Linked DNA regions of Homo sapiens. The protein of the gene in region 2 purifies or fractionates together with the protein of the main gene of each other region. This does not show direct contact. Each region holds a gene or a part of one and is shown on either strand. Other genes may lie near its edges.

The links. The genes of interacting proteins can lie anywhere in the genome.
Region 1: the proteins of TSGA13 (region 2) and SCGB2A1 purify together in Homo sapiens (affinity purification with mass spectrometry; 3 studies listed by BioGRID and IntAct, with this or other methods). This does not show direct contact.

Annotation. Positions count from the first base shown.
Region 1 is NC_000011.10:62,211,086-62,215,080, reverse strand, and holds the end of SCGB2A1 (mammaglobin-B precursor), read right to left. Parts: intron 1,356-3,995; coding exon 1,311-1,355; 3' UTR 1,138-1,310; downstream 1-1,137. UniProt on the Homo sapiens protein: May bind androgens and other steroids, may also bind estramustine, a chemotherapeutic agent used for prostate cancer. May be under transcriptional regulation of steroid hormones.
Region 2 is NC_000007.14:130,683,001-130,691,073, forward strand, and holds the start of TSGA13 (testis-specific gene 13 protein), read right to left. Parts: upstream 3,546-8,073; 5' UTR 3,262-3,545; intron 2,361-3,261; 5' UTR 2,211-2,360; coding exon 2,188-2,210; intron 673-2,187; coding exon 594-672; intron 1-593.

The DNA of each region.
Region 1 (3,995 bases), on a different chromosome or scaffold from region 2:
TCTGAGTCCAAATAAAACAGCAATATTTTATCATCTGTTGCATGGCTTTTGTAGGTCACAGGTATTACATTGCCTTCATAGGCCACTTCTTCATAAGAACATTTTAAACATACTTTACAACTGTATTGGTAAGACGAAGTATAGAATTCAGGCTAGATTCATTGGTATATGTTCATTAATATTACAATCACTTCAGGAAATTATTCTTTAAATTATAACATTTTCATACACCCCTATGTATATTGTGGGCCTGGATCCCTGCCCTTGCCTTGCCTGATGGAAGAGTCGGCCCTGGTGAAGCTGAGTTGTCCAGACACATAGACAGGGTCTTCCTGGGTGAGGGGATAGCCCCAGAAGGAAAAGGGACAGGCAATAACCTAACCCTGGTGACAGGAGTGCTGGGGACAGGACACGATGGAGACCCCGGTTCCATTTAAACATCCCCTTCTGTGCTGGGTCCCTGCATAGCACACTCACTCCCCTCAACCCTCATTGCCTTTGCAGCTCACTGTGGGGCAGGGGAGGATGGACCCACTGGCAGAGACTGGACTGAGAAAAGTTGCACAATTTAAGGTGTCGCTATGCTAGCAAACTCAGTCATCAGGGTAAGTAATATTTTCATGCAATATTTTAAAAGTTCAAAATTAATGCCAACATCCATGAACGACAAATAAAACTCAAAATTTAAAATCCAGACAGGATCCACCTTGCTTTGCAGGCCTCCCCTCCCTGGCTGGCTCTGGTCTGGGCCCTGCACACGTTGGGGAGGCCCAAAGACAACCCAGAGGAGCCTGGCATAACCAGCAGGGCTCAGCATGGATGGGACTGGGGTAAAATCAGGGCTTCTGAGCATGACTCCAAGAGTGTGAGGTCCCCAGAGAAAGTGGCTTAGGGAGGTAGTGGGATGTGGAGAGTGAAACACTCTTCAGAGAAAAATTAGCTAAGCAACAAGAGCTAATACTTTGTTCTGCAGAGAGAGAGAAGTCCAACTCTTGGGCTCGAGATGATGAGAAATAAAGTATTTCCCAGAAACCTCGGACCCTCACTCAACTCCTTCGAGGCTTGTCTCTGTCTGCAACCTACAGCCTGACTGTGCAGCCTGGAAAGCTTCTTTTTTTATAGAAGAACAAGAAAGAATTTTAGTGATTTGCAGTTAGTTTATTGAAATGGAAATGAATTTGAGGTTTCAACAGTTGTCTAGCAGTTTCCACATAAAAAGACAACACAAGAAAGAAAAGTGGTTTCTAGCAATCAACAGATGAGTTCTGGCCATAGTCTGTAGCCCTCTGAGCCAAACGCCTTGGGTAAAGTTAATTACTCTTCATATTACACCAAATGCTGTCGTACACTGTATGCTGGAAAACAAAAGCAGGTCACTTAGGTTTGCAAATTTCACTTATTAAATCAAATATTAAAACTTGTCTTCTTGTTTTCTTGCATTTGTCCACAAACAGCTAACTCTCAGGAGGATTTGCAGTGGAAGCAAAGCCAGCATCCCCTCTCCATTTATTCTGTTATCTAGGAGACACTTCATAATGCCAAACAGGGGCCAGGGTTGTAGGATCTCTTCCCTACCAGTGATCCATGTAATACTTTTTTTCTCCAAAAATTCTATCCTTTGAAATAACTTATCCAATAAATATGCTGCATATACTATTTGTTGAAGACCTGATCATTTGGACTGTTTCTGATACCACTTTTACAACACAGAATTATTAAAAAATCTCAGCTCAGATACAAGAATGTGATGGTTTTGAGTTGCTGCACAGGCATAAAAGGTAGAAATGTTGTAACAGTCTGAGACTCTTCACCATTACCTTTGAGGCCTATGAAATATTGGAGCTGGGCTGGGTGGGATGGCTCATGCCTGTAATCCCAGCACTTTGGGAAGCCAAGGAGGGCAGATTGCTTGACCCCAGGAGTTTAAACCAGCCTGGACAATATGACAAAATGCCATCTCTACAAAAAAAAAAATATATATATATATATGTGTATATATGTGTATATATGTATATATGTGTATATATGTGTATATATGTATATATGTGTGTATATATGTATATATGTGCATATATGTGTACATATATGCATGTATATGTGCACATATATGTGTACATATGTGTACATATGTGTGTACATATGTGTGTATATATGTGTGTGTGTATATATATGTATATATATGCCAGGTGTGTTAGTGTGCACCTGTAGTCGCAGCTACTCAGGAGGCTGAAGCGGGAGGATCACTTGAGCCCAGGAGATGGAGGCTGCAGTGAGCTGTGATTGTACCACTGCATTCCAGCCTGGGCAAAAGAGCAAGACTCTGTCTCAAAAACAAAAACAAAGACAAAAAAACGGAAACAAGAAACACTGGAGTTTTACAATATGAATGATTAATCTGAGGGGTTTTTTTGGTTTGTTTAGGATTTTTGTTTGTTTGTTTGTTTTTGAGATGGAGTCTTACTCTGTTGCCCAGGCTGGAGTGCGGTGGCACTATCTTGGCTCACTGCAATCTCTGCCTCCTGGCTTCAAGTAATTCTTCTGCCTCAGCCACCCAAGCAGCTGGAATTACAGGTGTGCGCCACCACGCCTAGCTAATTTTTGTATTTTTAGTAGAGACAGGGTTTCAGCATGTTGGCCAGGCTGGTCTTGAACTCCTGACCTCAAGTGATCTGCCCGCCTTGGCCTCCTAAAGTGCTGGGATTACAGGTATGAGGGATGCACCTGGCTAATCTGAGTTTTTAAAGAAAAAAATGATTCAACCATCCCAAATTGCAGTTAATATTTATTTTTATCCTTGAGCATTTGATATATCTTTACATTTTTTATTATGGAATGTTTTAAATAAAATTTTAGGGTATTAAATAAATTCTTAAAAAAAAAATGTAATCCCAGCACTTTGGGAGGCTGAAGCGGGCAGATCACCTGAGGTCAGGAGTTTGAGACCAGCCTGGCCAACATGGTGAAACCCCATCTCTACTTAAAATACAAAAATTAGCAGGCTGTGGTGTTGTGTGCCAGTAATTCCAGCTACTCCGAAGACTGAGGCAGGAGAATCACTTGAACTCAGGAGCCGGAGATTGTAGTGAGCCGAGATCGTGCCATTGCACTCCAGCCTGAGCAACAAGAGCTAAACTCCATCTCGAAAAAAACGAAAAACAAAAAACAAAACTCGTAACCAACACATCTTTATAAACAGACAGAAATACTCCTTGTTATAACCACTGACTTTTGTTTTAAACAATTCTAGCACTCGTGCTGTTTCATACCCATAATCTGCACTTCCCACTTCATGAGGCACTTAATTAAGTGGTGCATGACTTCCAGTCATGTATGCTAACAAATCTTGGTTGCTTGGACTTGCATTTTAAATTCTTTATTTTAGGCCGGGAGCAGTGGCTCACACCTGTAATCCCAGCACTTTGGGAGGCCGAGGCGGGCAGATCACCTGAGGTCAGGAGTTCAAGACCAGCCTGGCCAACATGGTAAAATCTCATCTCTACTAAAAATACAAAAATTAGCTGGGCATGGTGGTACATGCCTGTAGTCCCAGCTACCTGAGAGTCTGAGGCACAAGAATTGCTTGATCCCAGGAGGCAGAGGTTGCAGTGAACGAAGATCATGCCACTGCACTCCAGCCTGGGCAACAGAGTGAAACTCCATCTCAAAAAAATTTTTTTCTTTATTTTAGAAAATGCAGAATTTGCACAAATTGTATTTTCTGAGCTAGATAAAAAAAAATAAGAATGTTTTGAATATTTGTTTTTGTGAAAGTAGGAAATTTCTTAGTAGATTGCTCCTACAAGTGTGTGATCTCTTGAGAACCAGATATTTTCTCTTGATAAAAATGTGCATGTTCTGGCTGGGTGCGGGGGCTCAGACCTGTAATCTCAGAACTCTGGGAGGCCAAGGGAGGCAGATCACTTGAGGTTAGGAGTTTGAGACCAGCCTGGCCAACATGGTGAAACTCCTTCTCTAGTTAAAATACAAAAATTAGC
Region 2 (8,073 bases):
TTGGGAGAAAGGTATGAAGACCTTTTCTCTTACAGGTTTTTTAAAAAAAATAATTTTAGGGGGAAATTCCCTGGTGAAAATGTTTTTACTCCTGAAGTTTTTTGAAGTATTGCATATCTGTTCCAAATTAGTCTCTAGCAGTTGACTAAACCCACAAGATTGTCCAAATTGGAATGTGTTTTTAGTTTTGTTATGTTGAATTTCACTATCTGTGGCTGATTAAATAAAAGTTGGCCTGGAAAATTCACTTGAATGTGGTAAACATGGGAAAACAACCAAGATACCCAGTGGAGTTTTGCTACAAGAGGTAGTTGTAAAGTCTGCGTAAGTTAGGGTTTGACACGCTCTTACTCCCTAAGATAGGTTTCTGCTTCCTGGGTTTTATGTCCTGATTTGTTGCTGATGTGTCCTGTTCCTTCTTTTTCTGTGCTCTATTTCTCTTCAATAACATTTGACAAGTTAACCTTGTTTTCCATATACATTTTTACTCCTTTTTGCTTTTCAATAGGGAAGTTTGTGATATCCAGCTTATTAAGTACACTAAGCAGCTCCAAAGAAAAATTAAACATTGAACACTTACTAACACTCCTTACCTCTTTGCTATTGACAACCATTCCTTTCTCACGTTTAGCTGAGCTATTTTCTGAAGTCTTTGATTTGCCATTTTGAAACCTGAAAAAGAGGCAGAACATCCGGTTGCACTTTCTGGCTCAGAGGCCTGGACTTCTGCATATTGTCAGTCTCCCTCAACAAAGTTTGGAAGCCTAACTCAGACAAGTCCAATTTAGGTGATCACATCAGTAATTGACTAAGTAGCAAAAAAATCAGACTCATTATCCAGCCTGCATGCTAGGGAAAAGCAAGACTTCAGTTTGGAGAGTTAAACAAGTGGGACCTTTGGATGACTCAGTGACATCCATTGAGTTGGTTTCTTCTAAAATAAGGATTTTAGACCATTCACAGAAGTGCTCTAACGACTGCTTAAGGAAATTATTTTGGGAAGTTAGATCCTCACAATACCCTTAAAAACCACCTACTATTTTGAATACTTACCTGCCTATTCTTCTTCCACATGGAAATTGCCCTGTTTTTGCCAGTGATTGGCCAATGATTAGCCAATGAATCTGTGAGAAGGAATATAGTTAATAGAACCTCACAACTAAGTTTCCAATTCTTGTTGACCTTGCTTGGATTACTGGCTCTCATGTCTTCCTAACCACATCTCTGAAGACTTCTCTTCTTAGAACTAGGGTAGTAAAAATAATCAACAATGGCAAATATTTCTGTACTCTACTCTGTTACCCTCACCCTAATACCAATTCTCTTTGCAGAAAATAGGGTGAAGCAGCTTCTATTCTTTGCTATTCTTTTTAAACCCATTTGCTGCCAGAACATAATGTAAAATGCTCCTCAGTAAGATTTGGTTAATGATTAAGATAAATGGCCTGCTTCTTCCTTGGAGATAGTTCCATTGGGTGGTTAAATTAGCTCAAAGTAAGAAGAATTATGCAACTATCTCAACTAGACCTCTCTCCTTTAAAAATGAGGATAGCAGAATAAGGACCAAAATAAAAGTAGAAATAGCCACGCTATGTCGTTTGTAGGTCAACTGGCTATAGCGTGCTACAAATAATCCCCAAATCCATGATTCTATCCCATTCAAGCATAGCTACCTTCCATCTGTTGCTGGCCACCAGTTGCACCATTAACTCAGGTCAGAGGTCTTAAAAACGGTCCCAACAGAGTAGGTGACCCATGATGGAGAGACCAAAATTCATCCCAACTTAACATCTTAAAGTTTGTGCCCTTTCATTAAGTTATCTAATAATTAGTAATACAGTATAATATTTATTGTAGCACTTTTCAAAATGATTCTTTGATACCTAAAAGGAAGCACAGAATCCCGGATACTCTTCTTCAGGGCCAATTTAAGGCATAGAACTATATGAAAAGCGCTTCTTTAGCCCAACAGCGTCCATCTGGAACAAGCTGGTGCTTTCTTTTTGACAAAAGCAACCATGAAATACAGACCAAGATCCGGTTTTTGATCCAGGGACAATCAGTCAATTAAAATATGTTTAATGAGAGTCTACTCTGTGACCAGCACCATTCAACGTGCTGTGGGCTATGCAATAAGTTAATATAAAGTGGTGTTTATAACTTAGTTGGGCAAACAAGACTACATACTTGGTTTGTCTCTTTTGGCTCATTGCTGTTGACTGCTAGTTGGCCAACCCAAGGCAGGTATTCACCCAAGGCCAAATTCAGGTCTCTAAATAGTCCACGTTCTGCAGGGGTTCAATTCAATCCAAATATTCTTTCCTTAGCACACAGTGTGTACTCATGCCCCATTCTTGAGCCTGTATGGGAAACAAGAAAAGACTGATAGGTGCTATTGTAGATGTAGAAAATGCACAAGACATGATGATGCTTGCTCTTAGAAGTTAAATTTATTTCACAAACGGGGGAGGTGGGAGAAAGCGATTATCCAATGTAAAACAATAGTGACAAATACATGCTAATATATTAGGTAAGTCACTTTATCTCTTGGGGTCTCAATTTCCTTATCTGCAAAATGGAAAGTATTAACTAAATGATTTAAAGGTGACATTCTAATTCCATGATAGTGATGAGATTTAACTATAAAAAGATCTGAAATAAAATTAATTCACATATGTCCGTAGAAGGCTAAAGGTGGAGAAGCAGCCATCTTCCAATTTTCTCCTCCTGTCAACAAAGCCATGCTCATTCATAGATTAGGCCTGAGAAGCTGGGAAAAGTGTGTGTATATATTGGGAATGGGAGGATTGCTATACTTTTTGATATAGACAATTAGAAATGGAAGATACAAGCTGATAAGGTAGAACCAACCATTTAGAGAAAAGAAAGGTCAGTGAGCCTTGGGATGTTTCCTAAAGGTTGTGGAGCTTGAGCAGAACCTCGCAGGATAGTGTATGAAGTAGTCTAATTGGAAGATTATTTGTCGTTGTTAAGTAGGAAGAAATAAAAGCAGGTAGGTCGAATGGAGTCACATTATAGGGGCCTTGACAATTAAGTAGAACTTTGAAAAGACCTACATCAGCCCAAATTCCTATGAAGCCCACAGGTTTAGTGGAAAGCCCATAGACAAGGGTTTATGTCTAACTTGATTGTCTAGACAAACCCTAAAGATGATTTCTAGAGTTTATGACAAGACTGAGCTAAACCCTTAAAGTTCCCTTCTAGGGAAATAGAGTAATAAGCGTTTCACCCTTTTCTCACCTTTAATTTTTCTGGAATTGTAAGTCCAATTCATGTATATGGTGAAACTAAAATAAAAATGAGCTGTCAAATTGGGCAGTATAAGTCTTGGGTTGCTAGTCTGCAGGCCAGGCTGAAAAACAAATCACACAAACACTAAAACTACATTCAAAATAAGAATGTAAAAACCTGGTGTACACTACCTTTAAGAACATCACGAAATCATAGTTTGGTGAAGAAGGCAAAGTCTTTGGCATGGGAACTTTCCATTTTGAAAATATCGTAATTATTCTTTTCTGGATTCTGGAGGAGACAGAGGGAATTTGTGATGAATAGGCAATCTAGAATGCTGAGGTGTTCTGTGTTGGAGACAGAGAATGAAAAGGCCAAAACTTAAAGGCATATTTAAACAAAATCTGCCAATCTCTTATTTTGCCAGCCTATGACTTCTCTACACACACACACACACACACACACACACACACACACACACACACACATCTTCACCATCTCTTAATCTACCTCTACCTAAGCCAATGTTTTCACTGCATTCTTCAAATACAGTGAGCATTTTTTCTTATTCCCCATACTTAAAATGCTGTCCCCAATCTCTTCAGCCATTTGAATCTTCTCCTTCTCCTTCTCCTTCTCTTTCTTCTGACGGAGCCTCACACTGTCACAAGGCTGGAGTGCAGTGGCACAGTCTCAGTTCACTGCAACCTCTGTCTCCCTGGTTCAAGTGATTTTCCTGCCTCAGCCTCCAGAGTAGCTGGGACTACAGGCGCCTGCCACCATGCCCAGCTAATTTTTGTATTTTTAGTAGAGACGGGGTTTCACCATGTTGGCCAGGATGGTCTCGATCTCTTGACCTTGTGATCCACCCACCTCAGCCTCCCAAAGTGCTGGGATTACAGGCGTGAGCCACCATGCCCAGCCCTGAATCTTCTTTCTTTATGTTACTACTCAGGTCATTCCTTTAAAGAGAAGATTTTCTAGATTAATGCAATCCCAAACTCTAGACTATAGTCACTGGGTTTTGTGCATGTCATTGTATAGTGTCTTGTAGTTCTGTTTTCACTTTTCTTATGTGCGGGTCTTGTCTGCCTCTTAAGCTGTGAGTCCCTTAAAAGTGGAAATGTAAATTTTAAACATATTTGTGCCCCCCTCCCAGTGCTTTGTATCTTATGCATTCAAAACTAGTGTTTGCTTATTTCAATATATTTGCTGAACATTTATGACATATTAGACACTCTCCTAGGTGATGAGAACAAAGCATAAATCAGATGTAATTCTTGAGCTCCTTTAGGAGCTCACAGTTTAGCCAGGAAGAGAGACAAAGAAACGGTTGATTGCAACAGAGTAGAATGCCAAATTAGATCTAAATTTAGGGTACTATGGAAGCAATGAGGAAGGGGACTTAACCCATACTGAGAAGAGACTGAGAGAGATTTGGAACTACTGCCTAAACTGAGCTGGGGAAGATGAGTGTGAATTAACCAGGTGATGAGAGGACAGACATTTGAGAAAGAGGGAGAAGCAGAGGCAAAAACATGAGAATACAACAAAGCCTGGCTTATTTAGGGGAATTGAAAATACTGTAATTGCAATATGCCAGGAACATAAGATTTAGGGGAAGGGTAGTGAGAGGTGAGACTAGAGAGGAAGACAGGATCCAAATCCTAAAATGAACTATTTGATAGGAAGTTTGTGGGTTATTCTGAGTAATGAAGCGCTAACAAGAGATTTTAAATGAGGTATAATCTCCTTATTGAACAATATATATTTTAGAAATACAAAAATAGTGGCATGTGAACTATAGATTGGAAAGACAGAAGAACTATAGATTAGAAAGATGCAAAGAGGTCCTTGAGAAGTCTATGACAGTGCTGAGGAGGGGTTGAGAAATTATAAGGGTCTATAGCCATCACCAATTAGTGCCATTCACTCCTGCATCCTAGCTCTGGATGATTGATTCAAAGGTGGCCAACCAGGTTATACTAAGAATTTGAAAGTTTGCTAATGACCCACAGAGCTGTAAGATGATTGCACCTGAGCCACCTCATGTGGTATCCCAGGCTGGAAGACTCTGAGCTCTGAGCTCTACCTGCTGAGGTCCCCGGAGCTGCCCCAGATCTAGTCCTTCCTAAAGCAAGACTACACAATTTTCTCTTCAGTTCTGTGAGCTTTCCTAATATTCTTTCAAATAAATCCTTTATTTTCTTAGGGTTCATTTCTGCAGTTTATGACCAAAAAAAAAAAAAAAAAAACCTAATATGGGCTCTGAAGCAGGGTGTCCAATCTTTTGGCTTCCCTGGGCCACGTTGGAAGAATTGTATTGGACCACACATAAAATACTCTAACGCTAACAATAGCTGATGAGCTAAAACAAATCACACAAAAAAAACTCATAATGTTTTAAGAAAGTTTTTGAATTTGTGTTGGGCTGCATTCAAAGCCATCCTGGGCCACGTGTGGCCCATGGGCCATGGGTTGGACAAGCTTGCTCTAAAGCAAGGTAGTGGCAGTGAAGAGGGTTAAAAAAGGATATATGAAAGATGTTAGGAGGGTAGAATTAATAGAACTTGGTAACTAGTTGAATACATGAGATAAGGAATATAATCACATTTTTAGCTTTGTTACCTGAGTTAATGGAGGTGCAAGTTACCAAATTAGAGAACAAAGGGAATGGAGCAAGTTTGGGGGATAAATGATGAATTTTGTTTCTGGTCAGTTGAGTATGAGGCAGAGGTGAGGATGTTGTCTAGTAAGTAGTTTAAAATATGGGACTGGAGCTCAGGAGAGACAGGTTTGGTACTATAGATTGAATGTTTATGTCCTCTGCCTCCCTAAATTCATATGTTGATACTGAGTCCCTAATTATGAGGGTATTAGGATGTGGAGCCTTTGTGGGGGCAATTAGTGCACTTATAGAAGTGGCTTCAAAAGCACATCTTTACTCCTTCTGCCATGTGAGGACACAACAAAAAGCCGGTCCTCACCAGATACTGAATGTGCCAGCACCTTGATTTTGGACTTCCCGGCCTCTGGAACTGTGAGAAATAAATTCCTGTTGTTTATAATCCACCCAGTTTATGGTATTTTGTTATAGCAGCCTGAACAGACTAAGCCATTTGGGTAGAATTATGCATTTGGAAGTCAGCCTCAAGCATTATGTGCTAATTGAAGCCATTGGACTAGATAAGATCAAGTAGGAAAAATGGTGGACTAACAAGAGACTAAAGCATAGAACCATGCCCCAGACTATGTAAACATCCAAAAAAGAGCATCATAAATGAATTTTGTAAAGAACATGGAAAAGGAGTGGCCAGAGATTGAAAGAGAACTAGGAGGAAGTGGCCACAGGTGGGATGATATCATTGGAAGGGATGCTATTATGAAAAAGGAAACAAATTTTTTAGCTTCAAGCAGCAAGTTTTGAAGGTATAGAAAAAGATTAAAACTTGCAAAAATGACCAAAAGCTTAATAAGCAATCCAATGCTGCCACTTATAAGGCAGATAAATCTAGACTGAAAAAAACCTACAAGGCTTGGGTTCATGGAAATGCCAGGATTTGCTTGAAGAAACAGAGACCATCTGGTAAAAGAGAATGTGAATCCCCATTGTTTGTCTTCTTTTTTCAGAGATACAGGGGCTGCATTGATCAAAACTCAGGGCGATCCTCCCTGCCTACTACTCCTTGGGTGTTGATCTATGACAGGGCCTAAGAACAGCTCCCCCTTATCCCTTCACCTACATAACTTTCCACATTCAGATGGAGACTTCACACCCCAGGTAACAGCTGGGCAGGGAGGACAGGGTGCTGGGGTGGCACAGTGCATTCTGAGAGATGTGACCTCAGGAGCAAAGAGCAGGAGGAAGGGCACAAGATGGGAGGAACTGTTTTTTTGAACAGTTTTGTCCTCTTTTCTCATTTCTAACTGTTTATAAAATAGAAACGGCTACCTTTATGGAAGTATTGGTATGGAAAGTAAGGAAGTGTGGAAAGAAGCATCTACCCTTCATGAAAAAAGGTAGTGGCACAGAATGCCAAGCAAGGGTAGTTTGCCCCATTTTTGTCTTCTTTCATTCTTTCTTTTTCTTTCTTTCTTTCTTCTTCTTTCTTTCTTTCTTTCTTTCTTTCTTTCTTTCTTTCTTTCCTTCTTTCTTTCTTTCTTTCTTTCTTTCTTTCTTTCCTTCTCTCTCTCTCTCTCTCTCTCTCTCTCTCTCTCTCTCTCTCTCTTTCTTTCTGTCTTTCTTTCTTGCATTTTCAGACAGGGTCTCATTCTGTTACCCAGGCTGAAGTGCAGTGGCATCATCATAGGTCACTGCAGCTTCAAACTCCTGGGCTCAGGCACCCACCCACCTCAGCCTCCTGAGTAGCTGGGACTACAGGCATGCACCACCATGCCCAGCTTTTTTTTTTTTTTTTTTAAAGAGACATGGTCTCACTGTGTTGCCCAGGCTGGTCTTGAAATCCTGGCCTCAAACAATCTTCCTCTCTCAGCCTCCCAAAGTGCTGGGATTACAGGCATGAGCTACTATACCTAGCCACTCTTCCTTCCTTCTTTCCTTTCTCTCCTTCCTTCCTTCCTTCTTTCCTTCCTTCTTTCTTTCCTTTTTTTTTTTTTTTTTTTTTTTTGATGGAGTCTTGCTGTGTCACCCAGGCTGGAGTGCAGTGGCATGATCTCGGCTCACTGCAAGCTCCACCTCCTGGGTTCACACCATTCTCCTGTCTCAGCCTCCCAAGTAGCTGGGACTACAGGCACCCACTACCACGCCTGGCTAATTTTTTGTATTTTTTTAGTAGAGGTAGGGTTTCACCGTGTTAGCCA